Linked DNA regions of Homo sapiens. The protein of the gene in region 2 purifies or fractionates together with the protein of the main gene of each other region. This does not show direct contact. Each region holds a gene or a part of one and is shown on either strand. Other genes may lie near its edges. The genes, in order: WRNIP1, FOXP3, HIPK1, RORC, SUGP2, SMC3 and NUP133.

Region 1 (4,186 bases), on a different chromosome or scaffold from region 2:
ATTTCAAGGCAGAATGAAAGAATATGCATGGCTTGGTTAAACTCTCCCTCTCTAAATTACAAACCAAACCCCACAAATCTCTTCCACTAAGGAAAAGGAACATTTCATGGTCAGGGTGATAACTGCTGTGTAGAAGTTTCAACCAGGGATATGCATCAAGTTAGACACAAATACAGCCACATGTACCTTACCTACCATAGACTGAGCTCAAATCTCCAGGGGCAGACCCTGGGCAAGGCATGTTTCTAAAATGTATCCCAGGGAAGTGTGATGTGCAGATCTGGTTAAAAGGCTCTCCTGCTGCTCTTACACAAAGAAGTGCCAAGAGAGAAAAGTCAGAACAGAAAAACCGAGCAGTGGGTCCATCCTCTGTAAACTTGGCACCTCCACCCCTTGTAGCACTTGAAGTCACTGAGAAGACAGAGACATGCCTTAAACACTGGCTCCATCACATTGAAGCTGGTTGGTCTTGGGCATGTTACTTAACCTTTTTGTGCCTCAGTTTCCTCATCTAGTAAATAGGAGGTAATGAGATCTACTTTGCAGAGCTGTATTGAGGACTGAATGAGATTAAGACATGTGGAATGCTTAGAGCAGTGCCTGCCATGTCATGAGACTCGACAAATACTGCTTTGGTATCAACAGCGAGGAGAATCACCCTCATCAGACTGTGCAACAGCATACTCTCCAGAACTGCACATATCCAAGGCAGAGCCCCAGATGCTGCCGCTTCCATAACATCAGAGTGAAAGCAAAGCAAAACAAAACTGACTTTCTCCACAAAGAGAGAAGGTACATTTCAGATGACGACGTCTTTCTGTTTAATCCCATGGAGGCACATGTCTTTCCAAATTACATTATACTTGGTAGGGGTCTGTAGTGGGTTGAATAGTGACCCCAAAAGATGTAAGTCCTAATCCCTGGAACCTGTGACTGTGACTTTATTTGGAAATAGGGTCTTTGTAGATGTAACTAAGGGTCTCAAGATGAAATCATCCTGGATTTAGAGTGTACCTTAAATCCAATGACAAATGTCCTTACAAAACACAGAAAAAGAGAAGACGTAAGGACACAGAGAAGAAGGCCACCATGTGAAGATGGATGTAGAGACTGGAGTGACATAGTCATAAGCCAAGGAATGCCAAGGGCCATCAGATGCTGGATGAGAGCATCGCCTTGTTGATACCTTGATTCTGGTCTTCTGGCTTTCAGAACTGTGAGGATAAAGCTCTGTGTTCTGAGCCACCCAGTTTGTGGCAATTGTTACAGCAGCCACAGGAAGTGCATCCAAGGACCATGAGATCTGTGGTTCTGGCTGCTGGTGCTTTTATGGCATTATTTTAATGCACCCTTGTATTAAAACAGCTATGTTAATGTACTGTATTAATGTACTTAAAAAATTTTTAAATAAAAAGATTGACATCTACTCTATACCAACCATTTATTCTGGCCAATCCCTTGTATTCTGGAGTTCCACTACCTTTCTTTCTATTCAATGGCACAAAAGGTTATTTAAGACACTTTAAACTTTTATAAAAAGAAGAATCCATAGCCACCTTGTTTGGGGGCCAGCTTGTCAGGGGCTCTCCTCTCCAGATGATTAGAGAAAAGCCCCACACCCAGTTACGCCACAGCCCTTACCCAGGGACAGACGCCACTTTCTGTCTTCCAACCACCTCTCGGAACTCAGCCTAGCTAGGCAGAGGGCAGTTATGGCTTCTCATTTCACTCTCTTGATCTCCAAAGACTTGTATACTCTATCTGGTTCACAAATAATTGATTCTTTAGGAGTGTTTTTGACTATGTATATATTCTATGACCTAGGAATCTATATTCCTTCAAAGCAGCAAGTAGTGCAGGATGACGAAATGCTAGCTTACTTTTTCATTTTCAGCAGCACAAGCTCATTCTTCGTATCATGAATCATGGACATTTTTTTCCTGGCCTCCAAAATTAACCCAGAGCAGACAGAATCTTCACTGTTTGTATCATGTGATCCAAATATTTTTGGGAGAGCAAAATACCTGAACACTACTGCTTAGCCATACAAACCAAAGCAACTATGGCGTAGACAATGAGCTTTCTATTTCACTCAGTTAAATTCTGCTTATCCTTCAAAACTCAACTCCGCATCCCCTCATCTAGGAGGTGAAATACTGGATTTCACATATTCTGAATGCTGCTTCTCTACGCCCACTGCACTTGGCGTATAAGCGTGGCACTGGAAGTGGACCTGCTCCCCTAGCCTTCATCATACTGCGCTCCCTCTGAAGGCACAGGAACAAGCTTTTCAACCCTCAGCCAATGCCTAGCATATGCAGGAGCTTCAATTTTGACTGAATAATAACTACAGGAGGGAATTTTTTTTTAAAAAAAGAACACTTATTTCACTTTAATGGGAATTTATCACTTACATGAGTATACTGTGTGACAACTCACAATTCCTCAAGTGCAATCAAGAACGGCTAAGCGGCAGCTTGATTAGTTTCCAAATCCAGTGCCCTGCTCACCTCCTCTCACGTGCAGTTCAACAGCCTGGGACTTCTCTGTAAATGTTCTAGTTGCTATCTAGGGCACCAAAACATGACACAAGAATACAAATGCACACCAATAGCTTCCTGGAGAGAGAAAGTAAGTATATGGGGTTGGAAGTCTTTTCTTTCAACTAGATTAGTGTCACCAAATCTGATTTATATGCACAAGGATGTATATAGAGCTGTCAACAGGGATTGGAAAGCAAAATTTTACCTAAAACAACTAAAAGACATCCCAATCCACTCTTAATTATCCCTGACAGTTGGGGTGGCAGGTACTTGTATTCGGAAATCACTTGTAAGAGTTCTTTCTGTGGCCTATGATATCTCCTAACTTAACTTCTTGTTAGAATTGCTAACAAGTTGACCAATTAATGGTTTTAAGCTTAACATTCTTTCATTTTACTCTGCTTGCTGCTGATGAAAAGGGCAATAGTATTAAAGAAAAAGGCTCTTGATACCTGGGTAATTATCCCTTATGCTGGATAATGCAAAACATATTAAACTACTTTTCTCATATCGAAAGCTAGGATTTATTCATTTCCAAACCATTCACAAAGCACATAATGTGTGCCAGGCACTGTGCTGGGGATATGAACAGGGACAAGCTCCTGTCCTCACAGTCTTCCCAGGAAAGCGGGGGACACAAGATAGCAAATATAATTGGGATCAAGTCTAAGCAAGCGGTAGTGGAAATAGTAAATCATTTACTGGATATGGGAAGTTTTCTCTGAAAAGCAATTTTAGCAGATAAACAATCTCTAGCTCATTGTTATATCAGTTTCAATAACTAAATCTTAATTATTTCACTTGATCTTCTCAAACTTTAATGTGCCTGCAAATCACCTGAGGATTTTTAATAATAAAATATAGAAATTCTTCTCACAAGGATGAGCTCCTTGGCTGCCGCCTTTCTCATTTCCTTTAAATTCCTGCACGGCAGTGACTGGGGAGAGGTGAAAAAACCTGAGGGTATCTGAGTAACAACTGATTATTATTGACTTCATGTCATCAATATTAATTATTGATTTCATGTTCTATTTCATGAACTGATGACATGAAATCAATAAAAATCACCCCAGACAAGTACACATGCAGAATATTAAGTTGCAGATACATTACGATAACCAGTACACAGAGCAAAGAACACACAGAAACATGAAACATGTTAGGATTTCCCCCCTTTTCTTTCAATTTGTCTTTACCATGTGGTTCTATGCGTCTGTAATGAGAATTCTGTTACGGGAAACCTACACATGAGTATCCCACATCTGAAGTGCCTGGGACCAGAAGTGGTCTGAATTTCCTATTTTTTTGATTTTAGAATATTTGCATTATATACTTACCAGATGAGCACCCAAAATCCAGAAATCTGAAGTGCTCCAATAAGCATTTCCTTTCACAGCATCATGAAGGTGCTCAAAAAGCTTTAGATTTGGGAGCATTTTGGATTTCAGATTTGGGATACTCAACCTGTACTACATATGAGGAGCTGGCAGCCCCCTTAGGCTCTGACAAATGCCCACCACATAAAGCACTTCTGAGTATGAGTCCATGTGGCTGATACCACAGGTTCCACACACTGCTTGTGGCCACAGATGTAATGGCTATCCCCATCACAACGGTATTCCAAAACAAGGCCACTCTGTCCT
Region 2 (4,186 bases):
TGTCACCTCACCTACTTGGCCCCAGTCCTCTTCTCTTGTCACATGGGGATGGGGACACATAGCTATGCTCATGGGACTACAATACGGCCTCCTCCTCTCCTGAGACAGGGATTGGGAGGTCGGGGAGAGCCTCCAATCTCTGAGGCCTGGCAGGTGGGGATTTTCTTGGCCCTGCAACATCTGCATAAGTCACAGACTTGCCTGGGACCCAGAAACCACTTCCTGTGCCCCAGCCAGCCCCCCTCCCGCCCAGTGCCACAGTAAAGGTCGGCACCTGTAGGTCCAGGTACCCCACCCTGCCTGCCCCATCCTGGGCCCAGGGCCTCACCTGCAGCTGCGATGGTGGCATGGGGTTCAAGGAAGAAGAGGAGGCATGGGCCCCGCCTCGAAGATCTCGGCCCTGGAAGGTTCCCCCTGGGCCCCGGGCCCCCAGCAGGTCTGAGGCTTTGGGTGCAGCCCTCCAGCTGGGCGAGGCTCCTGGGGATGGGCCAAGGGCCAAGGAAGGGGCCGAGGGCTTGCCAGGCCTGGGGTTGGGCATCGGGTCCTTGTCCAAGGGCAGGCTGCGTAGACAATAGGGGAAAGGAGTCACACGTGTGCTAGGGCGGTATGAGATACTCGACCACCTGAGCCACGTGGACACTCCTCTGGTCAAAGCAGGCATTGGCTGGGACATGTCCCGAGGGGCCCCATAGTTGCACCCCAGCTCTAGACACACACACACACACACACACACACACACACCAAGAACACAGGTACATGTACATACCCACACATGCCCCACGTGCAGAGGTCCAGCACCTGGCTTGCCTGCCCACGCTAGCACAGCCCTGGTGTGGATGTGTCCTCTATGAGGGCAATGGTTGTTTCCCCCTCCACTTGAGAGCTGTTTCAAGCCTCAGGCCTCTAGCCCTCCCTGCACCCTGCACAGGCTGTGTTTGCTCATCTTGCCGGAGCTGGTCTCGGACTTTCTCCTCGGAGTCCTATTTTGCCCCAGTGACTAGGCATGGACTCAAAAGATTCATCTGGCTGCTGTGAGTGGGGCTAGTGAGGAGGCTATTGTAACAGTCCTGGCAAGTGATGATGCTGGCACAGAATGGGCTGGTGGCAGTGGAGAAGGCGAGAAGTGGGTAGATTCTGAGACTTAATCTGAAGCTGGATCAGGAGCAGTGCTAGCAGCTTGGATGTAGTGGGCAAGAGGGAGAGTCAAAGTGACATGGGTTTTAGCTTGAGCAGCTGGAAGGACCGAGCTGACATTACCTGAGATGGGGGACATGGCGGGGAGTTGGATTGGGTGCAAAAGTGCAGGTGTAGATAGACATGAAGAGTCTGGCATTAAATATGTGAGTGGAGGAGCTGAGGGGGCAGCTGAATACGGGGGTCTGGATCTCAGGGCAAGGAGGCGAGTCCAGGAGTGTGATCATGCACGGATCCAGCATGGCAAGTGACAGAGAGGAGGAGAGATGGGGTCTCTTGAGCTGGGGCCTGTAGAAGCTTCTCTACCCAGCCCCCATCAGAGTTCACCCCAATTTCTGGCCCTCAAGCCTGGCTCATGCTACACCCCCTGCCTCAAATGCCCACTCCTTCTCCTCTTTCCCTGTCCAAGCCACGCAAGACCTGCTCTTCTATTGTCCTCACCTTGAAAGCCCTCCACAATGGCTCCGGGCCCCCTGCTGAGCCCCAGAACCTTCCACTCCCTGAGGGAAGCACTGGCTTTTCAGGATCCTATAATCCTGGTCTGAGAGGAAGCCAGAGCTGGAAGGGACTGCCCAGCCAACCCCATTATACAGAAGGGGATGCTCAGATGCCGAGTTCCGTAGTCCCATAGTGACTTGAGAACTCCACTTCTTTCTTTAGGAAGTGTTTCCGTGTGCACATTTTATAAACTCTCTGGTGTGTGTGTGTGTGTGTCTCCATCTCCCCGTTCCACCTCACAGCACTGAGTTGGGCACACAGCTGCTGAGAGCAGCCCGGGGGAGTATAGAAGGGTTCTGGGGGAGCAGTTGCTCCTTCCTTTCTTTGCTGTCACCTCCTGGGGGTGGTTGTCAGAGCTGTGGTGCTGAGGGAGATGAGTGTGAGAATCCAGGTATTAAGTTCTTAGTCTCCTGGGGGCTTAGAACATTACTGCGTGAGAAACAGGAGTGTGGGTCTGTGGAGGCTCCGAACAAGGGCCTGGGAGAGCACTGGTGAGATGAGAAGGTGAGTGAATGAATGAAGCCAGAGATGGGGTGATGCTCCTTCAAGCCAAGAAATAACAAAGATTGCCAGCAACCACCAGAAGCTGGGGGAGAGGCCTGGAGCAGCTTCTCCCTTATGGCCCCCAGAAGGAACCAACCCTGGCAACACCTTGATCTTGGACTCTGGCCTCCAGAACTGTGAGATGATCAATTTCTGTTGCTGAAGCCACTCAGTTGTGGTACTTTGTTATAGCAGCCAGAACAAACTAATACCGATTTCGGTGCAAATGGATGTTTTCCACCACTCTGGCCTGGCCCATGTGGCTGGCCTGTGGTCACTTCTGAAGCTGCCTGGACACTTGGCCAGAGCTAAGAATTCTCCCCAAACACATGTGGGATGGCCTGACTCAGCAAAGCATAGATACATTCTCAGACAGGGACATGGAGATGATCTGTCTGGGGGTAGAGGACCTAGAGGGCCGGGCTGGGCAGCCGGCTTCCTGCACTGTCTGTTGGGACGTCCCTTTCTGACTGGGTTTCTCAGAAGCTGAATGGGGGATGTTTCTGGGACACAGATTATGTTTTCATATCGGGGTCTGCATCTGGGCCCTGTTGTCACAGCCCCCGACTTGCCCAGATTTTTCCGCCATTGACGTCATGGCGGCCGGATGCGCCGGGCTTCATCGACACCACGGAGGAAGAGAAGAGGGCAGATACCCCACCCCACAGGTTTCGTTCCGAGAACTGGCTGCCCTGTCCTGCAGCAGGCTTGGCCCAGGTGGGGTGACATGGGTGCTGGTGGATGTGGTAGGTGATGTCCATCTGGCCACTATGACAAGCCCCTAGCTCTGAAGACCTGGCCCTTCTTGGGTTGTGGAGAGGACCCAGGTTTGAAGCTCTGAGAGTGCCAGGCAGGCTCCACAGATACTGGGACCCCTGGGGTCTTCAAATAGTATAACACCAGGACCTCAGAATCATAGAACAGCATTTCTTAGATTTAAAGGATCCTAGAATCTCAAAACCACAGACTGTGGGGTCTACGGTCCCAAAGTCTCAGTATGTGTAGGCCAGTGTCCCTGGTGTCCAAACTCCTTGGAACCATCTGAAAGTCAGGCAGCTTGCTGCTTCATAGGGCCTCTTGCCTACCAGGCCTGGAAACAGAGCCAGCCTCCCTAGGGCCTCAGTCTCCCTGTCCACTCTGGAACAACGTTCCCAAATACATGGCCACTCCGCCAGAGATGGCAACAGGGGGAGGAGGAGGTTGAGGCTGGTGTGCCTTTGGTCTGGGCCTCATGGGGGGAGCTGGAAAAGCCTCAGCCTTCGCCAATACAGAGCCCATCATCAGACTCTCTAGAGGGGCCCCACAATCAAGGTTTTCGGGGACCAGCACCAGCTCTGGGGACACACAGCCTGACTGACTGACATGCCTCCATCATCACCACGCTCTGGCCAACTAGGCCTCCTGACCTATGGAGTCCGGGGCCTCACCTAGCCCAGCTCTTGTGAGGCTGGGCCCCACACTGTGATCGTGGATCGTCCAACCTGTGGGAAGTTGGGGTCCAACGTGTGAGAAGGCAGAAGGGGGAATGGTAGCCCAGGTTCCCCTTCCCCCTTCTGGGTGCTGAGGGGTAAACTGAGGCCTGCAGTTGGGGAGAGAGCCAGAACCAGGGTCCCACCTAGAGTCCTGAGATCTAGGCTTGGATTTCAACTCTGCCGCTGCATTTCGGTGAGGCCCTGAGATCTCTGGTCTTCAATTTGCCCTTCTACACTGAGCACGGAGAGGCGTGGAGTAGACAAGGGCCAGGGCCCTTCTACGCTGTCTGGTTAAGTCATTAGGTGTCTGCAGGGCTTCAAGTTGACAATTGCCCCTCTATCCAGGGGACTGGCTGAGAGATAGGGATACATAGAGACAAAGAGACACACACAAAGAGCGAGCAAGAGAGAACAAGAGATAGTGAGAGACATTGAGAGAAATGGACACATGCATGGAGAGCCAGAGTGCATGTGTGCGA
Region 3 (4,186 bases), on a different chromosome or scaffold from region 2:
TAATATACAAATGAGATTGTAGTCTCAGAAACACATTCAGTGCTGATGGGAGAAAGCAGACAAGACGTGTGATATTGCAAGAAGAATTAGCAGGCAATTAGGTTTGCCACAGATGATTTGAATTTGGCAATTGAGATGTAGACAGGACTTGATAATATTGAAAATGACTGCAAAAGTGTTTTGGAAAACAGTTATATTCTTTAGATTTTTTTCTCACCCAGTGTCATAGCAGTGATGCTTTTGATGGTTTTATTACCAACCCAATTACTTCCATCATCTTTGCCCTGTTAGATACTGGACTTAAGCTCCCTGGTTTAGTTATTGTGTTAGTTGGGTAATAGCAGTTGCAGTAACAAATCCTAGATTTTTGTAGCATAACATAGTAGAATTTTACTTCTCTCTCATATAATTTCTTGGTACAAGTGTTTGATTCCTGAGCATCCAGTCAGAAGGAGAAAGAAAGTGTGAAGGAGGCACACACATGTCTTAACCTCTTTAGGCTGGAAATAAGTGGAAATAGTGAATGCTTCTCACATGGCCCCACCTAGATGCAAGTGAGCCCAGGCAATGTAGTCTTGTTAAGGCAGCTGCTTTTCAGTGACAACTTCATACCAAGGAAGGGGTTGGTGAAGTTTAGGTGTCAACATAAACCTGGGCCATACTTGTATAAATTATGTTTTATTATGTATTATCTTACTGCCATAGACATAAACAGGGTTGTAATTTGAGGGTATTGTGTTATGCCTCTGTGTGATTCTTTTCAGAAGTAGACAGTTGTCCCATTGCAGACAAGAGAGAGAGCTTCCTGATGCCAGGCTACTGAATAGAATTATTAGTACCTCCGTGTGCTCTTGGGTCCAGAGAATATAGGCTATCACATGAGACACTGAATAAATGCTCTGGTTTTCCTAATGGGAACACAGAAGCAAGCAAAATTTCACATTCAGCTGTCCTGTAATTTCTAAGAATTTGAAGACAGTAAGTGTCCAACAAGATAGAATTTTGCCTTCTTTTAAACCCTCTTGCCACTTTAATATCCTAAGAATTACCAATAGCTTTCTCAGCTTCACATTATCATTTCTGTGCTTGTTTAATCCCTTCCTACATAAAACTATAAACTCTTGGAGAGAGGGATGGTGTCTTAGCATATTTGTATTTCCAGTCGTTCCTTGTATATAACAAGAGATTATAGTTAAAATATTTATAATATTTATTTAAGTGAACATTTTGAGGATCCTATGTGGAGATTTGTGCCAAGACAGAAAAGAAATGGGTGATAACAGGTTATTTTCTTCTGATGTAAATAGAATTGAGACCTTAATGCTTGCAAACTACATACAGATGTGGACTAATTAATATGATGCCATCTGAGGTTAGCTCAGTGATGTCTACTCATAACTATTAAGCCTGGTGCTTTTTTAGGTCTCCTGAGCAATAAGACTAAGCCAGTCGCTTCAGTGAGTGGGCAGTCATCTGGATGCTGTATCACCCCCACAGGGTATCGAGCTCAACGCGGGGGGACCAGTGCAGCACAACCACTCAATCTTAGCCAGGTAAGTGCTATGGGCTACTGCCTTCTGTTTGGGCCCTGCACTGTTGTTACTTTCTGGAGAACCCTGCTTCTGGCTGGATGCTGAATAAAGCCAAATGAAGCCCCTTTTGTGTCAAACAATTTTGTGTTCTATGGCTTACGTCGTACCGCATATGCTGTGTCTCTTCATTCACTCTGTAAGTGTGTTCAGGATGTACATTCTAGGTTTTCCATCAGACCTCCCTAAGTCTACCCTGGAAGGTTAGAGAAACGTCTGGGATTTAGAAAGAGCCTGGGGTGCTTTAACCATGTCTGTGATAGGCATATGCTTTGAGACCAGATTCTCTTTATCCCCCAGGCCATAAGTAAGCTGATCCTTACATTGTTTACTTGAGTCAAGAGATTGTGAAAAGCTCATTGGCCACCAAATTCAACTGGTTCTAGGTCCTACTTGTTGCTGGAGTCTGCGATTTGGGACTTCCCCACTCTCCGAACACCCCCAGCCCCAACCTACCCTTCTGCTTCTCTCATTACTTTATTCTATTTGTGTTCACTCTTAGAAGCTAAAATTCGAGTGCTTGTATGATGTCCACCAGTAGTGAGAAAGTGTCAGTATGAGGGTATGTGAGAGAGAGCACATGCAAGTGAAAATGTAAGTTTGAGTTAGTGCATGTATTTTAGTTTCCACATTTCAAGAGGGGTATGAAGAACTTAGAGGACGAAAACAAAAGAAAGCAATGGTAAGAAATAAAGGCTAGGAAAAATTCAAATTTACTGACGCCAGAATAGGGTGAGTTGAGTCACCAGTTATTAACTTGCAGGAGTGGGGAACCCTATGATCTCTTGATTCTCCCTCTTCCTGTCATACTTACAAGCAAAATGCTGTTACCTGAGCCAGATTAGGATCTATCTTGCTAAGAGGCAGAAGGAGGGGTGGCTGATTTCTGACAGCATTCAATGCCAGTGTGGGAGATTATGTGCTATACCCATTCGAAAACAGTACAAGTCAGAACCTGAGCTCTTAACTTGGCCTTTGGTGCCCTGAGCTGGAGTGACCTCAGGATTCCTCACTTCTTCCTTCTTTCTTCCAGAACCAGCAGTCATCGGCGGCTCCAACCTCACAGGAGAGAAGCAGCAACCCAGCCCCCCGCAGGCAGCAGGCGTTTGTGGCCCCTCTCTCCCAAGCCCCCTACACCTTCCAGCATGGCAGCCCGCTACACTCGACAGGGCACCCACACCTTGCCCCGGCCCCTGCTCACCTGCCAAGCCAGGCTCATCTGTATACGTATGCTGCCCCGACTTCTGCTGCTGCACTGGGCTCAACCAGCTCCATTGCTCATCTTTTCTCCCCACAGGGTTCCTCAAGGCATGCTGCAGCCTATACCACTCACCCTAGCACTTTGGTGCACCAGGTCCCTGTCAGTGTTGGGCCCAGCCTCCTCACTTCTGCCAGCGTGGCCCCTGCTCAGTACCAACACCAGTTTGCCACCCAATCCTACATTGGGTCTTCCCGAGGCTCAACAATTTACACTGGATACCCGCTGAGTCCTACCAAGATCAGCCAGTATTCCTACTTATAGTTGGTGAGCATGAGGGAGGAGGAATCATGGCTACCTTCTCCTGGCCCTGCGTTCTTAATATTGGGCTATGGAGAGATCCTCCTTTACCCTCTTGAAATTTCTTAGCCAGCAACTTGTTCTGCAGGGGCCCACTGAAGCAGAAGGTTTTTCTCTGGGGGAACCTGTCTCAGTGTTGACTGCATTGTTGTAGTCTTCCCAAAGTTTGCCCTATTTTTAAATTCATTATTTTTGTGACAGTAATTTTGGTACTTGGAAGAGTTCAGATGCCCATCTTCTGCAGTTACCAAGGAAGAGAGATTGTTCTGAAGTTACCCTCTGAAAAATATTTTGTCTCTCTGACTTGATTTCTATAAATGCTTTTAAAAACAAGTGAAGCCCCTCTTTATTTCATTTTGTGTTATTGTGATTGCTGGTCAGGAAAAATGCTGATAGAAGGAGTTGAAATCTGATGACAAAAAAAGAAAAATTACTTTTTGTTTGTTTATAAACTCAGACTTGCCTATTTTATTTTAAAAGCGGCTTACACAATCTCCCTTTTGTTTATTGGACATTTAAACTTACAGAGTTTCAGTTTTGTTTTAATGTCATATTATACTTAATGGGCAATTGTTATTTTTGCAAAACTGGTTACGTATTACTCTGTGTTACTATTGAGATTCTCTCAATTGCTCCTGTGTTTGTTATAAAGTAGTGTTTAAAAGGCAGCTCACCATTTGCTGGTAACTTAATGTGAGAGAATCCATATCTGCGTGAAAACACCAAGTATTCTTTTTAAATGAAGCACCATGAATTCTTTTTTAAATTATTTTTTAAAAGTCTTTCTCTCTCTGATTCAGCTTAAATTTTTTTATCGAAAAAGCCATTAAGGTGGTTATTATTACATGGTGGTGGTGGTTTTATTATATGCAAAATCTCTGTCTATTATGAGATACTGGCATTGATGAGCTTTGCCTAAAGATTAGTATGAATTTTCAGTAATACACCTCTGTTTTGCTCATCTCTCCCTTCTGTTTTATGTGATTTGTTTGGGGAGAAAGCTAAAAAAACCTGAAACCAGATAAGAACATTTCTTGTG
Region 4 (4,186 bases), on a different chromosome or scaffold from region 2:
ACCTAGATCTCTGTAATTCTGCAGCCAGTGCCCTCAAGCCTTAAGCTATATACTTTATGAGGATAAGACGCCCAAATGCACACCGGAGACCTGGGTAGAGGACATGGTTATTTGGCTGTAGGGGTAAAAGTGTGAGGTGATTGTGGTGGTCTAGGAACAGAATTCACAGAGGAAACCCACAGAACTAAAGCCAGGACTCCTGTTTGTATAAAGATCCCAAGAGATATTATTCCCTCTGTCCCAACTCTTCCTCTGAGGTCCCAGCCTCCTCCTGCCCTTACCCCTTTCTCTAAGGCCAAGTGGGATGACTTATATATCAACAACAGGGTTCCCGGGGACTCCTCAGGAACACCACAGCCCCTTTAGGGTATAGACTAGGTTTCCATACATCTTGGTATGCCTCCCTTTGCAGAATGAATGAATGAGTGAGAAAGAGGAATGCATCTCTTTCCTTAGCTTGAGCTCCTCCTCTCCCCACAGCCAGAACTCTCTGTCTCGATCCCCACCGAGACCACAGCTCCGGTCAGGGGTCACTTGCACACCCCAACCTGTCACCAGCCTCCCTCCTTTCTCAGCTCTCAGTTCCCCCAGCTTCTGCAAAGCTGGAAACCAAGGTGGTGGGTGCCACCACAGGGGAGCAGGAGCGGGAGGGCTGGGTGGGGGCTGGGGGAGAAGTGGTTCTACCTGGCGAACACTACCCCCAGCCCAGGCCAGGGCCCTCACCGCAGCTCCTGGTGAGAATTTTCTGCTGAAACACCCAGATCCTGGGGCTGAGAAAATAGTGAAGCTAAAACTCAGGTGGGCGAGGGAGAGTCTGGGGTTTTGAAAAGCCATGAATGACAGCCAGCCAGCCACCCGAAACCCCCTCCTGGTGCCTCCGCCACCCCCACAGTCTGGGACTGGAGAAAGGCGAGTGAAAACAACCAGTGAATGGGGGAGGGGATGAATCACTAGGAGGAAGCTCTGGCGAGTGGGAGCCCAGACGTCACCATCAGCACCTTCCCTGCCTTCAGGGCCATCTGTCCCTCATCCCAGAGCACCTTCACTGCTCCAGGAGGGTAGTGGACCCAGAAAGACCTTGGCTCTGGCCCTGAGGCCCTGCCTTGTTACTGTCCCTCCCCCGAAATAGACATCTCCATCCTTTTTGAGCCTCAGAGCCCCAGGGAAGGGGCTGCACTGCAGCAGCAGGCGTGGAGGTGAGACTTCAGAAAGGACTAGCTATATGGGAACAGGAGCGCGGGCCTTGGGCTGCCCGCCTGGGAGAGACCTTAGCCCTTGGAAAGTCCTGTTCCCTGTTAGTTTGAGTCAGCAGCACAGCGGCAGGGGATGGGGAGGAGCCCTTGGTAGGGACCGAATATTTTCATTGTGCTGGGACAAGCTGAGTCTTTTCAGAGTCTAGCACCTTGGGCTCGGTGGTTTGGTATTTCTGTTAGGAATGGGAAGACGGGGAAAGAGAAGGGTGCTGGAGTGATGAAAGGAAGGAAGAAGCCCTTCACGGAGTCCTAAGATGGCCCTGGGCTCTCAGGGTGATATCTGTGTACCCTGGGGACTTGGAGTCCTTTCTGGCCCACTGTTCCTCATGATCATGACCAAACCTAAGAAAGATCAGCTCATAGACAGTGACCTCACACCCCTCGGCCTCCCACCTCCCCATCCAGACCAAATGCCAGGGCCTGAGTGCCTATTGGCGCCACGCTGGCCATGCCCTTAGGGGAAGATGTCTGGGCTACCCTCCGTCTGGCTGGCTGGGAGTCTCTTTGGCGTACAGACACATTATCTCCACTTGACAGCAGCAGGTCGGATGGCAGGGTGCTGGTGCCATCCTTGTCAGAGCCACCCTACTTCCCTCTTACCGCTTGCCTAGACCCTGTGTCTCCCTGTCTTCCCTTTACTGCCAGTTATCTTTTCTCTCCGCCTCTCCCTGTGTCTATGTGCCTTGTGATCTTCTGCATTCCAGCTCTGTTTCTGGGCTTCACACCTTCATGTTTGTTTGTTTGTTTAAGAGACAGGGTCTCGCTCTGTCACCTAAGCTAGGGTGCTGTGACATTGATCATAGCTCACTGCAGCCTTGAACTCCTGGGCTCAAACGATCCTCCTGCCTCAGTCTCCTGAGTAGCTGGGACTACAGGTACACGCCACCATGCCCAGCGAATTAAAAAAAACTTTTTTTGTAGGGACAGCGGCTCACTTTGTTGCCCAGGCTGGTCTCAAACTCCTGGCCTCAAGCCTCAGCCTCCTGAAGTGGGATTATAGGCATGAGCCACCACGCCCGGCTGCACCTCCATGCGTTTGGCTCTATTGGTGTTTCTCCAACCACACCTCCAGCTGGACATTACTCTCTCCCTAGGTGTTCCAGAAACTCGCCCTCTGAGTTGGGCCTCTGCATCTCTCCTTATTTCTTGATTTGTTTCTGCTCCTTTTGTCGGGCCCTTGGTCTCTGGGTGTGTCACAGTCCCAAGCCCCATGTGCTTTGACTTTTGCCATCGGCGGTTGGAGGGGCTGGTGGTGGTTGGCACTCATTGGGGTCAGATAACTTGGGGCTATGAGATACCTGTAAATGTCCAAGTGAGAAGGACCAGTGGCACTGACCCCCTCGTTGGAGGAGGCCCTCTCTCCTACTTCCCCGCCTGGGTGGGGCTGTGTGTGTGTGGTGGGGGTGGGAATAATGGAGAGCTGGCCAAGTGTCTCCCTCAGCCCCTCCTGGGGACTCCTGCCCCGCTGCTGGGCTAGAAGCACACCTAGTCATTTCATCCCAGGGTTGATTTGCTCATTAGGGGCCATCTCTGGGAAGACCAGTCTGCCAGCGTTTGCTGCTAATAGAGAGAAGCTAGAAGGGAAACGGAAGCTCCAAGGGGCCCTTTCCTCTGTGTAGAAGCTGTTGGCTCTTCTCTCCAGCCCTCCTTATCCACCCCAGCTCATATGCCTGCACTGTGGCCTCAGTCCCTGTCACAGAAGTGGAATTCTTTTCTTTCCTTGGTTTCCCTTCCTTCTAACCTCTGGGAGAGCTGAGTCTCCATCATCACCCTTGGGGATGCCTGCCTTAGGGCACTGGGCTCTCTCTTGGCCCTGGGCCTTTGGAATGGGAGACTCTCCATAGTTGGTTTTGTTGTTCTATCTTAAAATTCAGCTCCCTTGTTTTGCGGATGGTAGACCAGGGCCCAGTGACTTGGCTTGTCTAAGTCTATATGGCTAGCCAGTGATAGGCGGCACAAGTGCCTGGTCTTACACTGTCAGTCCAGGGGTCTTTCCAGGACTCAATACGGCCTCCCTTCTGTGGCTTGTGGGAAGACCCCAGGTTGAAGCTGGGGCTGCTTCAGGCCTCAGCCACAGGGGCATGGGGCTTCCCTTTTCCTCCTTCACCTTGTGCTCTGAGAGCTTCTCTGGCTTCCCTGGCTTCCCTTCACAACAAATACAGGGGACTTCCTGAGGTTGCCCACCCTTGCTCTGCTGGAAGGCACAGGAACCCCAGACATCTGCCCACCAACTGTTGGCCCAGGGCTCCAAGCCAGGAAAAGGGTGAGGCCGAGGTCTTTCCAATCCCATCTCCATTGCCTTGCTTCCCCGGTCAAATGGGTGACTGACCCTGGAGAACCACACACACACATACACACACACCCCACACACACACGCACACACACACATGCACACACACGCAGGCATGTGCCCGGGTGCACCCTGACTGGATTCCACATAGTCCTCATGTCCCTGGATTGGGCAGAAAGCCTGGTGGCTTTGAGGCCTGGACGCGGGGATTCTGTGCCCTGCTGCCTGCCAACCTCAGTTGACTCTCGCTGTCCTGTTGCTTCAGAGCACAGCAACTGCTCTGGCCTCCTTTTACTCACAAGCAGGCTGGAGGCACAGAGGGAAACACCGTAACAAGGGAAACACTGTAACAGGAGAGTGCGTTCAGGGCCCCTAGTAATTACCAGCCCCCATCAGATACCAGCTGTGTAACATTGGGCCAAGTACGCGGCCTCCTTGGCTCTCAGTCTTTTTGTAAAATTAAGGGCCTGGATACCTCAGATACTTTTGGAGGTTCTTTTTGGAACTCAGGAATTCCTCAACAGTCCTCTTACCATTGCTGCTGTCAGGGAGCCGCCTGGCCAGCAGGACTCCCCAGCTGCTCCACCCATCTCCCAACAGATCTTGACCTTGACCAGGACGCACCCTGCTTTGCTCAGATTTG
Region 5 (4,186 bases), on a different chromosome or scaffold from region 2:
AGCCATTAAAGGAACAGAAGTGAGGTCTATAACTTCCGTACTACTATAGAGAGAAAGAAGCAAAAACACAGGAATTGGAAAACACAGAGATGGGAAATTGCATAGCAGGTGAACGCTACCAAAAAGAAAGGATGTAGAGAATTGTTTAGGCAAAAAAGACTTTAAGGAGAACAGCACTAAAAGGAGCAAAAGAAGTTCCTGATAAAAGGGAAAGTCATCACGAACATATAGATTGTGAATCTTGGTGCCTGCACTACATAGCTTTGAGCCATGTAAATAAACAACCTTTAGAAATCATTTAAGTCCAGAGCTGGGTGCGGTGGCTCATGCCTGTAATCCCAGCACTTTGGGAGGCCAAGGTGAGCAGATCACCTGAGATCAGGAGTTCAAGACCAGCCTGGCCAACATGGTGAAACCCCATCTCTGCTAAAAAAAATTCGAAAATTAGCTGGGTGTGGTGGCGGGTGCCTATAATCCCAGCTACTCGGGAGGATGAGGCTGGAGAATCACTTGAATCCAGGAGGCAGAGGTTGCAGTGATCCGAGATTGCGCCACTGCACTCCAGCCTGGGTGACAGAGCGAGACTCCGTCTCAAAAAAAAAAAAATCATTTAAGTCCAAAACCATGATAAGAGGAATTGGATGAATCCAAAACCATGGTAGGAGACATTAATGTTTCTCTGAAATGCGTAGACGACGTAATCCAAATAAGGTTGTGGAAGATTTTATAACACAGGAAATGAGCATAAACAGAGACAATCTGCTAATATTTGTTGAGCGGTTAATGACTACTAGGCAGTTTTCATAGCACTTGCCTCCTAGTGAAAAGCTTATAACGCAGGCCTCACAGCTGTATGATGAAGTAGCTACTGCTTATCATCTTCCCTGTCTTACAGATGGAGAAACTGAGGCACAGAAAGGTTCCCAGCTAATAAGTGGCTATGCTGAGATTTGAAGCCAGCAGACTGGCTTGTTGAGTGTTCTCTGTTCTTGATGTTATGTTCCACTGGAACTTGGGAGATGCATTTGGGACTGACATCCTCGGACTGCACTTGGCATCAGAACCATCCAGGAACAAGGAAAGCCATCAGAGCCATGAGTGACTGGGGCAGTCAGGTCACCTGGCCCTGATTCTGCGCTCTGCCCTTGATGAGGAGTTGCCTTGCTGGGGCTGTGTTTGACTTGAGAACCAGAGTGCCCATGTTGGTCAGCATTCTCTTAATTGAGCGCTATTGCTTATTAGGGCATGATCTTGCAGGATGCCACCGTTAGCCCAACAGAGTGCCAGGGCAGCAGTGGAGCCGGTACTCAGTCGTTTTGTCAGGTCCAGACAGACCTCAACTGGCTAACAGTGTCAGCAGGAGCTTGTGTATGGAGCTGCCTGCCAGGGACATGCCACATCACACAGTGCTGCCAATGCTGTGCAACACACAGCCACCTTACTTCTAGTTGGCTTGTCACTGGTAATCTGGAACCTCATCTAATAACTGATATGTCGCTACTTAATATCAAACAATCTGAAAGCCACCTGAAATACTGCCATACTTACTAAGCAATATTCTTCTTTAACACAAACTGAAATCAAATATTCACAAAAGTCTGTTATGTTTGTTGTGGGGTGGTTATTTATTTATTTATTTTTAAAGAGATGGGGTTTCGCCATGTTGCCCAGACTGGTCTTGAACTCCTGGGCTCAAGCGACCCACCTGCTTCCGCCTCCCAAAGTGCTGGGATTACAGGCGTGAGCCACCACGCCCATCTTAAAAGTTCGTTATGTATGAAATCACAGAGAAAATCACAGCACACCCAGGAAATTCACGTGGGCCACATTATGCCAATACAGCAAACTAGAAACCAGCAACAACCAAAATAAAACATGTTTCTGAATAACTTTTGAGTGAAGGGTAATCATAGCTGAAATTAGAAGCAATTTAGAAGGAAGTGGCAAGAAGAACATTATATACCAGATGCAGTCATAAAAATACTTAAGAGAAAGAGTGACTTCAGGTGACTTTATTAGAAATAGTGGGCCAGGTGCAGTGGCTCACACCTGTAATCCCAGCACTTTGAGAGGCTGAGGCGTATGGCTACCTTGAGCCCAAGAGTTTGAGATCAGCCTAGGCAACATGGTGAAATGTCCTCTCAACCAAAAACACAAAAATTAGCCAGGCGTGGTGGTGCGCGCCTGTAGTCCCAGCTACTGGGGAGGCTGAGGTGGGAGGATCACCTGAACCCAGAAGGTCGAGGCTGCGGTGAGCTGTAATCAACTCATGAAGCTAGAAGGAAAATGATGAAAAAAGTAAAGACACTAGAAGGAGAAGGTTTTTTTTTTTTTTAAAGATAGGGTCTTGCTCTGTTGCCCAGACTGGAGTGCAGTGGTGCAATCACAGCTCACCACAGCCTCTCGACTTCCTGGGCTCAAGTGATCCTCCCACCTTAGCCTCCAGAGTAGCTGGGACTATAGGCATGCACCACCACCCTGGCTAATTTTTTTATTTTGTGGAAATGGGATCTTGTTTTGTTGCCCAGGCTGGTCTTGAACTCCTGGGCTCAAGCAATCCTCCCGCCTCAGCCTCTCAAAGTGCTGGGATTACAGGTGTGAGCCACCACGCCCAGCTGAATATTTTTCTGTTAGTACATGTAGCTCAACCTTCTCTTTACTGTTCTCATCATGATGACTGGGTCATAAGATTTCACACCTGGGCCGCAGGCTCCTTGGTTAATGTTCTCTTGTGGTTCACATCACACTTTCCTTGATGCAGTCAAAAGCTCACCGAGCACTCATCCTGGCTGGGCCATTTAAAAGGTGTCAATTCTGCCTGCCAGGGTGCTATGGCTCCAAGGTGACTGGTTTGTGTTTCCAGGCCATCAAGAGCTGGGAGCTCCCTCACGGCTGCTGCTGATGGAAATCAAGGAGGAACTCAGTTCAAACTCCCGATTGCCCTGTGGTCACTCTTAGCAGGGCAGCTGTCTTGGGCCTAGCTCTGGGTCCTCAGTAGAGCCAGGCAGAGCCTCTGAGACAGGAGAGGACAGTGAGGAGTTGGCCACTTAGAAAGGGTTTGTGTTTGAAGGAACAATTTGGGACCTGGTGGTGTTTTCATAAATGTCCCGTTATGCTTGTTTTGTTATCTAGGTTTTTGTCTGATGAAAATAGTCTGGAGTATAAATATTACAAGCTGAAGTTGGCAGAAATGCAGCGGATGAGCGAGAACTTGCGAGGAGCCGACCAGAAGCCGACCTCAGCAGACTGTGCAGTGAGGGCCATGCTGTACTCCCGGGCTGTCCGCAACCTCAAGAAGAAACTCCTTCCGTGGCAGCGGCGGGGGCTCCTCCGTGCTCAAGGGCTCCGGGGCTGGAAGGCGAGGAGAGCGACCACCGGGACCCAGACCCTCCTATCCTCAGGCACCAGGCTGAAACACCACGGCCGGCAGGCTCCAGGCCTCTCACAGGCAAAACCATCCCTGCCAGACAGAAATGATGCTGCCAAGGACTGCCCGCCAGACCCAGTTGGACCTTCTCCTCAGGACCCCAGCTTAGAAGCCTCAGGCCCATCCCCCAAGCCAGCAGGAGTGGACATCTCTGAAGCACCTCAGACCTCTTCTCCCTGCCCATCTGCTGACAGTGGGTGCTCACTCCTGTCCCCCTCCTCTGGGCCCCAGTCCCTACTCTCCCATCTCCAGGGTCTCTTTAGAATTGGGGGGGCCTGCAATCTAGGCAAGGCAGTGGATAAAAGCTCTAGGGACCTGGCCAGGACAAGTGTACATGTTGGCGCTTTCTCTCTTGCTTTCTTGAGAGAGCTGCATGCGAGTCCTGCAGCTCCCTCCTCCTCTTCTGAGAGCGGAGCTGGTATGAGGTGCTGCCCCATGCCTTCGTGCTCCCCGACAGGGTCCTGCTGCTGGGGCCGTGGGCGGTGCATTGCCTGAACTTGGGATCCCATGTCCTGCTATATCCTGGCCTCCCTTGATAGTCTTCGGGACTGCCTTGTTCTCATTGCGCCTCCTCATCCCCAGGGTCTCCACAGTTCCTGTTCTTGGGGTTCGCTGACCTGCACTGCTTCCTCCGAATCGACTAACTTCACCCCTTCTGTTTCTTCTGTCACCTTAGCTGTTTCTTTCTCTCTGTACCACAGGCCTGCTCTCTGGCCAGTGCTTCCTAAGCACTAAGTGGGAAGGAGAGAGCAAAAAAGT
Region 6 (4,186 bases), on a different chromosome or scaffold from region 2:
GTAAATGGAACCACGCTCCATGTACTCCTTTGTGTCTCGTTCCATTCATACATCATGTTTTTGAGACTCAATTTTTCTTACCCAAACTTCAAAGACAATTTGTAGATGTGATAGCAGAAAAAGTCAGACCCTTTGATAGCTTACAAGATTCTTAATGTTCCACTTAAATTATTGATCATTCTCATGGGGTTTCAGCTTTAACTTCAGAGGATGGTAAAACAGTTGATGCTACCATCAACATTCTGAAGTCAAGTACCTCAAAGCAATTACACTGTTCTAAGAATGGTGTCTGAAGAATATTTTTAATCCACCTAAAGTGCACTTTTGTTACCAACAAAAGCAATGTTATGCTTCCGAAGTCTATCACCTTACTAGCCATTTTTTTCATTTAATCCTAAGTACGTCAAGACACTTTTAAACTATACATGACAGTTCCTTGGGAATCTTTCTCCAACTCCCTAACCTTAATTATGTCACTCCCAGATATGCTCTCAAAGTATCCTGTACTTACGCTTTTAACACTGCACATTTGCAATGATTTGTTTCATATCTTAGCTTTTTTCTCTTCTTTTTAAATGATCCTCCCACTTCAGCCTCCCAAGTAGCTGGGATTACAGGCGTGCATCACCACACCAATCATAGCTGTGACTTCTGTCTCCCTCCCCAAAACCCACTCAGCACTAAGGTCCATGGGAAGACAGATATTTTTATCTCATACACCACTGAATCCCAGTGTATAGTGCCTGGGCACTAGCATGTGTTAGATTATGTGATAAAAAATAACATTATAAAAGAGAAATACACCTTATCACACAATGACTCACATTGGTTTCAGGATAGGCTGTATCCCTGACATCTAACTTGTTAAGAGGCAGAAAAGTAACCTCTCCAGGAAGATTCATTTTATTAAACTCCATTAAAATCTTCGTGCTGACTTCATCTGAATCAACAATGTGATAAAATAACCTAAATATAAACAGAGTAAGACAAATCTTTATTGGTACTCAGGGTCTCCCTATGTTGCCCAAACTTATCAATCCTCCCACCTCAGCCTCCTGCATAGCTGGGACTAAAGGTGTGCACTTTTAAAATGTTATAAACACTTAAGCATCAAACAGTTTTTTCCTATATAATCCAAATAATTTTGGAAAATAAGACTACTTTAAAAATTCCAATGGCGGGGAGGGAGAAACTCCCAAAAGAGGAAAGTTCTAGCTTCTATAATTAGGAACAAATACTTAGCATCTACTTCTTTAATTAGAAAGTTAAGGAACCGAGATATAAAAAGATAATGGAAGATATGTTGTACAAAAACTACAAAAGTTGTTTAAGCTATTCTTATTCCCTCTTCTAAAAATGCTAAATATCAAGCAAAAGCTTTAACCTGTTTCCAGCAGTGACTTCCACGCATGTGTAGAAAGCTGGTTCACATTCAAAGTTATTCATTACAATACCATGATAGCCATTTTGAACATGCTGGTTTATTCCTTTTCGACGGAAGTGGTCTAGCACTTTGTTTATGCTGTCTATTCCATTTAAAATGGCCTGTAAGTTGTCAGAAATGAAAAATATTAAAATAATATCATCAATGGCACTCCTGGTAAGGAATGAGCCCACAACACCATACATTTTAAAAATATACCAGTGATTAAACTAAACATCCTCTCCAACAAACACATCACCTCCTCACAATATGCCAACTACATGTAACACCTTATATGATAGGCTCTGTTCCATAACAGTAGTGTTAAAAATGGGCTCTTTATCTGAACATCAAAAGTGCTATTAATAGTATGTGTAGTAATAAAACTATTTAATCTCTATCATTTCATATTTAGAAGATAATTTGGACTCCTATTTATCACTTGGAACCCATGACCTACACCTTGAAAGGTAAAAAATTATTACATAACGATTAACTCAATGACTCAGTGTAAACAGAGGTGATGAAAAGAACCTGCCCACCTTTCCTGTTGCTGCTCTAAGAAGTTGTTGCTTCTTTTCAAGATCTTCTCTTTTAGCAGCAAGTGCTTGCTGTTCTGCATTCTCTTCTCTCCACAAGTAGCTAATAAATAAAAAGTAGACTGTCTTTAATTTTAAACACATATGAGGATGCATTAACAGTATACAGTTTAGAATCAAAATACAGAAAACAAGCCTGACCGGTTAACTTGTAACTTAAAGACCACATAACAGCTAGTAACGAACATTACTGAAAACATTAATGCACATTTTAGTCTATACTAACTTTCTTTCACTTTGTAGTTCATCTTTCTTATTTTTTACTTCGTAATATTTTCTGTCCAGTTCTTCTACTCGAGCTTTGACTTCATTAAGATCCTGGTCCAGTTTCTATGGAAATAAAAATAAATTTAAAATTCAATTTCATGAAACTAATCTACACTGATAGAAAGCAGATCAGTGGTTGCAGATGGATGGGGGAGGCGGACAAAAGGTGAGGGAGGAATTACAAAGGGGTATGGAAAACGCTTTTGGGTAATAAACGTGTTTATTGTCTTAACTGTGGTGTGTGGTGTCTTAACTGTGTGGTGTTTTACAGATGTATACGTATGTCAAAACTCATCAAATTATATACTTTATTTTTGCCACTTTCCTGACTAGGAAAAATGATGTACACTAAATATGTACAATTTACTGTATGTGAATTATACCTCAATGATGCTGTTGAAAAATCCAATTTCAGTTTGTTTTTTTTGTTTTTTGTATTTTTAGTAGAGACGGAGTTTCACCGTGTTAGCCAGGATGGTCTCGATCTCCTGACCTCATGATCCGCCCGTCTCGGCCTCCCAAAGTGCTGAGATTACAGGCGTGAGACACTGCGCCCGGCCCCATTTCAGTTTTTAAAAGTTGTCTTTAGGCAAAAGAGCATACCACACCAGAAAACACAAACCATTAAATACTATAAAACATGTTGCTAAAAGTTAATTTGTTCATTAGTGATCTAAATCTTCCTATTTCTATAATATACACTCCAGAATTTTAGAAAAAAAATTCTAAGTTCTCATAATAGTCCATTATATACTTTCATACTGCCCCCTCTACACACACACACAACAGAACACAAAAACTATTTTCAACTATTTTACATTCAAGAAAAATGAGTTAAAAATCTTGGCAGAACCTATAACAAATCTCTAAGAACCTAACGTAAGATGCTGTTTCCTTAAGGAGAATTAATGAACTGTATTCATTAATTTAGTAGACTATACTGAGCTGAAAAAATCCAATAGCCTCACTGGCTAGAGTTTAAGGAAGCTGACACTTCATCCACTTAGTGAAGTTACCAAAACCCCAGTATGTACCAGGCATTCTTAGAAGAGCTGGGGAATCATAAAAGACCAAAGCAAACAAAAATCCTTGCCTTACTGGGAAGCAATAAGACAAGCAAAATAAAGCTGAAGATCATCCTTCAGGGGAAGGGCTTCAAACTGCTTCATAAAGTAATTACATTCATCTGTTTGTATTATAACTAATTATTGTCAGATATCAAAGTAATTGTAAATATTCCCACAGAGTACTGACAATTATTCATCCTCAGTAGTAACACTGACTTTTTGTCCAAAATTTTAATGGACAAAAGTCAATGTTACTACTAATTCCACTGACAAAAAGTCAATGTTACTACTGAGTCACAAAATCTTAGATTGGCCGGGCGCGGTGGCTCACACCTGTAATCCCAGCACTTTGGGAGGCCGAGGTGGGCAGCTCATGAAGTCAAGAGATGGAGACCATCCTGGGCAACATCGTGAAACCCCGTCTCTACTGAAAATACAAAAATTAGCCAGGCGTGATGGCACACGCCTGTAGTCCCAGCTACTGGGGGAGGCTGAGGCAGGAGAATCACTTGAACCCAGGATGGGGAGGTTGCAGTGAGCTGAGATTGTGTCACTGCACTCCAACCTGGTGACACAGCGAGACTCTGTCTCAAAAAATCTTGGATAATCAGAATGACTTTTAACATCTTGGATAATTAAACCCTTTAATTCTACACATAAGGAATTTGGGACTCAGTGGTATCTGAAACCATAAAAGAGTTAACAAATTCCCTAGGTAAAATTTAACTTTTCTGCAGCAATTACTTAATTCATCCCCAGGCTATCTGAACACATGCTAAAAGAAGAGTATAAACCTTGAAGAGTCAGTTTTCCTAAATTAATGTTTCAAC
Region 7 (4,186 bases), on a different chromosome or scaffold from region 2:
AGGATACGTTACTAGACATGCAAATGATAACCCACTGTTGGAAGTGGACAAGTGAAAAGTTTAACTAGCAACTGGTATCATATTTTCTTATTTTATTAAGCATCATTCAGTAGGTTCAACAAAACATAGTTCTGTCTTCTCAGAAATACGCAAACTCAAAGTTCATTTGCTTATGTGGATAGCATTTAGTCTGATACTTCATTAGGCAGACGGATTAGCATTATATTCATTGGAAATATCAATGACTCTAATTTTATTAAATGTAAACAACACAGATCTTCAAAAGGGGGAAACTTTTTTCCCAATACACAAATGTGTATGCATGCTCATTATTTCACATCACTATGAAAATGCAAACTCTTAATGCCTAAGTAGTTTCCTATTGACTATCCTCCAACTGTAAAAAAATTAGGGTAAAAATGAAAAGTCAATTGGCATTCCTCTCCTCTATCTTGTTCCAGCTCTCTAAAGAGCCATTACCTTAGTAATAGGTGACAGAGCAATCTTCCAAATAATGAGCTTCTCTTTGCACACCAGACAAGCCCATCCACCTTCATCTATGTTAATGGTCAGCTGGTCATCGACTAAAGGAAAAAATGAGGTGGGTGATTAATCTTATAGTATAAATCTTTATTACCACACGCTTTATCAAAAAAAAGTAATTGGCACACTCAGAAACGACTACCTCACAACAAATACTTTTGAATATTCCAAAATTATCAACACCAAAAACAATAGATCTATTAACTCTGATAACCAACTTTAGAAATATATCTAACGCCTGTAATCCCAGCACTTTGGGAGGCCGAGGTGGGAGGATCACGAGGTCAGGAGATCGAGACCATCCTGGCTAACATGGTGAAACTCCAACTCTACTAAAACTACAAAAAATTAGCTGAGTGTGGTGGCACGTGCCTGTAGTCCCAGCTACTTGGGAGGCTGAGGCAAGAGAATCGCTTGAACCTGGGAGGTGGAGGTTCCAGTGAGCCGAGATCGTGCCACTGCACTCCAGCATGGGCAACAGAGCCAGACTCCATCTCAAAAAAAAAAAAAAAAAAAAAAGAAAGAAAAAAGAAATATATCTAAAGGCAAAAAGTGTATTTGGGACATTTAATATTCCTTAATTTTTTGTTACAAACAGACCAGATAGCTTATTTCCTATAAGACATATTTAGGCCAGGCACAGTGGCTCATGCTTATAAATCCCAATATTTTGGGAGGCCACCCTGGGAGGACTGCTTGAGGCCAGCCTGGGCAACATAGTGAGACTCTCTCTCTTAAAAAAAAAAAAAAAAAATAGCCAGGCTTGGCAGTGCACTTCCCAGCTACTAGGGTGACTGAGGCACAGGAGAACCACTTGAGCCCAGGAGATTGAAGCTGCAGTAAACCATGATCACATCACTCCCACCTGGTCAAGAGAGCAAGACTCCATATCAAAAAATAAGTAAGCAGAAACAACAAAAGAGAGGCCAGGCAGGGTGGCTCACGCCTGTAATCCCAGCACTTTGGGAGGCCGAGGTGGGTGGATCATGAGGTCAGGAGTTCGAGACCAGCCTGGCCAACATGATGAAACCCCATCTCTACCAAAAATAGAAAAAAAAATTAGCCAGGCATGGGGGCATGGTGGCGTGCACCTGTAATCCTAGCTACTCGGGAGGCTGAGGCAGGAGAATTACTTGAACCTGGGAGGCAGAGGTTGCATTGAGCTGAGATCGCGCCACTGCACTCCAGCCTGGGCAACAGAGCAAGACTCTGTCTCAAAACAAACAAACAAAAAAGAAATATTTAGCAACATTTATAATTATATCGATAAAGTAAAACAAATAACAAACTCATTAACTATATAAAACATTTCAAGGAAAACAATGTGCTTTTGGAGGACCAAAAGCACATAATTTTCAAATAAGAGCTCCTTAAAGGAATGATAAATTATTTAGTACATGGAGACAAAGAGTTACGTTCTCTATTAAGTGACAAAACTAAATTAGCACATATCTTAAGTATTGGTGGTAAACCTCCACAAATGTGTTAACAGCCCTGGAAATTTTATTAAGTTGAGCTTTGCTCTTTACTTACAGAAAGGTAGAAGGGTGAAGTAAAAGGCATAGACAATGTACAAGCAAAAATATCAAACCAAGCCCAGGCTGAGTGAGGCTTTTTGCTCAACTGAACTATCTGCTCAGTAATTTTCTTTTTCTTGAAAGCACTACAACTCCAGATCCTCGACCGGTGTGCCTTTAAGGGCTGACTTAACAGTAGTTGGCAGGTTTCTAAGTGGGGAAGAGTTCTTCAAGTTGACACACCTCTTTGTTTTATATATCCTAATTTCTAAGGACTCTCTGAATTTCTAGATTTGGGGCTGTGTTATTTAATCTAGTCTGTTAAAATATGAGTAGTACATTAAAAGGTTTAAATGTAAACTGAAATTTTTAGAGGGGAAAAATATACACATATATACCAATATATATATATACATTTATTTATTTAAAACAGAACAATGTATAGAAAGGTTAGTAGTTGTCTGAAAACAACTATCCCTAAAGCTCCCAAGGACCTACAGGCAAGATGTGCCAAGTTCCAGTTGATGAGATATATTCCTTCTTCTAAAACAGAGTAATTTCAGCATTTTTTTTTTACTGTTATTAAGTTATACAGTAAATAGAGTTATTCACAGTATAATACATTTTACATCACGATACACCCATATACAATTTAAGTAAAACGAACAAAATTTACTAAACATATGAGATGCATTCTATTTCTTCTTTTTTTAAATGCTGGTCAAGAACCGCTAAATTTTGGTCACCCCTACAATTTGAAAAATACTGTTCCAGAAAAATCACAAAGATCTAGAATTCAAGCCTTAATAAAAATGACTTCAGCAGATATTAAGGCTGCTCTGAACTTTGCTCTTCCAGTGTCATCCAACTGCTCATCTTTAAAGTTGCCTTTCTAAGCTTGTGTTGATTGTATCTGTCAAAATTCCACACTAATTCTCCACCAACAGACGCTTCTAAAGGTACACCACGACAATGGTAACGTCATAAATTTGTGCACACAGCCTCTGGGATGCTACATAGGATCCAGAAATGGAGGTAGGACTTGATTTTACTGTATTATTAAACCCAATAACATGAGGTGCCAGTTTTGGGGTTTCACGGGAAACTTCATAAACCTGATCAACTCTGTAAACAGGACTGAATTTTGCATATACAGTATTTCCCCCTTTTATCTGCAGTTTCAAATACCTGTGGTCAATCGTAGTCTGAAAATATTAAATGGAAAATTCAAATGAACAATTCCTAAGTTGTAAATTGCATGCTGTTCTGGGTAAAGTGATAAAATCTCATACTGTCCTGCCTAAAGGTTGTGAATCAACCCTTTGTGCAGCATATCCATACTGTATACCCCAAGCTTGTCCAACCCATGGCCCAGGGACACGTGTGGCCCAGGACAGCTTTGAATGCGGTCCAACACAAGTTTGTAAACTTTCTTAAAACATGATAAGATTTATACACAGACCTTTTCATTATTTATTTTTAGCTCATCAGCTATCGTAAGTGTATTTTATGTGTGACCCAAGACAATTCTTCTTCCAAGTGGCCCAGGGAAGCCAAAAGATTGGACACCCCTGAGACTATCCAGCTGTTTGTCACTTAGTAGCTGTCTCAGTTACCAGATGAACTGTCGCAGTAATGCAATGCTTATATTCTCATTTTAGTTAATGACCCCAAACGAAGTACAAGAGTAGTGCTGCTGGTATATTGTTATAATTGTTCTACTTTATTATTACTGTTGTTCATCTTTACTGTTCCTAATTTATAAACTAAAGTTTATCATAGGTGTGTATGTATTAAAAAAACACAGTATATATAAGGTTTAGTACTATACAAGGTTTCAGGCATCCACTGGGGATCCTGGAAGATATCCCCCAAAGATAATGGGGGACTACTGTACAGTACCTAAAACCATTAAAGACTTAATTTGATTGTGTTCAAATGAACTCATTCTCCTTCTCGAATGTATTATACATCTCAATTACAGTTAAAAAAAAAAAAAAAAAAAAAAAAAAAAACTAAGACAGGTGGCCAGATGTGGTGGCTCACGCCTGTAATCCCAGCACTTTGGGAGGCCAAGGAGGGCAGATCACCTGAGGTCAGGAGTTCAAGACCAGCCTGGCCAACAT

The links.
Region 1: the proteins of FOXP3 (region 2) and WRNIP1 purify together in Homo sapiens (affinity purification with mass spectrometry; one large-scale study listed by BioGRID and IntAct). This does not show direct contact.
Region 3: the proteins of FOXP3 (region 2) and HIPK1 purify together in Homo sapiens (affinity purification with mass spectrometry; one large-scale study listed by BioGRID and IntAct). This does not show direct contact.
Region 4: the proteins of FOXP3 (region 2) and RORC purify together in Homo sapiens (co-immunoprecipitation; one study listed by IntAct). This does not show direct contact.
Region 5: the proteins of FOXP3 (region 2) and SUGP2 purify together in Homo sapiens (affinity purification with mass spectrometry, with the first as the bait; one large-scale study listed by BioGRID). This does not show direct contact.
Region 6: the proteins of FOXP3 (region 2) and SMC3 purify together in Homo sapiens (affinity purification with mass spectrometry; one large-scale study listed by BioGRID and IntAct). This does not show direct contact.
Region 7: the proteins of FOXP3 (region 2) and NUP133 purify together in Homo sapiens (affinity purification with mass spectrometry; one large-scale study listed by BioGRID and IntAct). This does not show direct contact.

Annotation. Positions count from the first base shown.
Region 1 is NC_000006.12:2,771,370-2,775,555, reverse strand, and holds part of WRNIP1 (ATPase WRNIP1), read right to left. Parts: intron 2,619-4,186; coding exon of another isoform or gene 2,558-2,618; exon of another isoform or gene 2,505-2,557; intron 1-2,504. UniProt on the Homo sapiens protein: Functions as a modulator of initiation or reinitiation events during DNA polymerase delta-mediated DNA synthesis. In the presence of ATP, stimulation of DNA polymerase delta-mediated DNA synthesis is decreased.
Region 2 is NC_000023.11:49,257,968-49,262,153, forward strand, and holds part of FOXP3 (forkhead box protein P3), read right to left. Parts: intron 561-4,186; 5' UTR 539-560; coding exon 329-538; intron 1-328. UniProt on the Homo sapiens protein: Transcriptional regulator which is crucial for the development and inhibitory function of regulatory T-cells (Treg).
Region 3 is NC_000001.11:113,970,402-113,974,587, forward strand, and holds part of HIPK1 (homeodomain-interacting protein kinase 1), read left to right. Parts: intron 1-1,422; coding exon 1,423-1,553; coding exon of another isoform or gene 1,554-1,637; exon of another isoform or gene 1,638-1,657; intron 1,658-2,622; coding exon 2,623-3,111; 3' UTR 3,112-4,186.
Region 4 is NC_000001.11:151,821,656-151,825,841, forward strand, and holds part of RORC (nuclear receptor ROR-gamma), read right to left. Parts: intron 1-4,186. UniProt on the Homo sapiens protein: Nuclear receptor that binds DNA as a monomer to ROR response elements (RORE) containing a single core motif half-site 5'-AGGTCA-3' preceded by a short A-T-rich sequence.
Region 5 is NC_000019.10:19,009,289-19,013,474, reverse strand, and holds part of SUGP2 (SURP and G-patch domain-containing protein 2), read left to right. Parts: intron 1-3,132; coding exon 3,133-3,620; intron 3,621-4,186. UniProt on the Homo sapiens protein: May play a role in mRNA splicing.
Region 6 is NC_000010.11:110,587,771-110,591,956, reverse strand, and holds part of SMC3 (structural maintenance of chromosomes protein 3), read right to left. Parts: intron 2,353-4,186; coding exon 2,249-2,352; intron 2,066-2,248; coding exon 1,966-2,065; intron 1,546-1,965; coding exon 1,385-1,545; intron 967-1,384; coding exon 825-966; intron 1-824. UniProt on the Homo sapiens protein: Central component of cohesin, a complex required for chromosome cohesion during the cell cycle. The cohesin complex may form a large proteinaceous ring within which sister chromatids can be trapped.
Region 7 is NC_000001.11:229,501,519-229,505,704, forward strand, and holds part of NUP133 (nuclear pore complex protein Nup133), read right to left. Parts: intron 585-4,186; coding exon 481-584; intron 1-480. UniProt on the Homo sapiens protein: Involved in poly(A)+ RNA transport. Involved in nephrogenesis.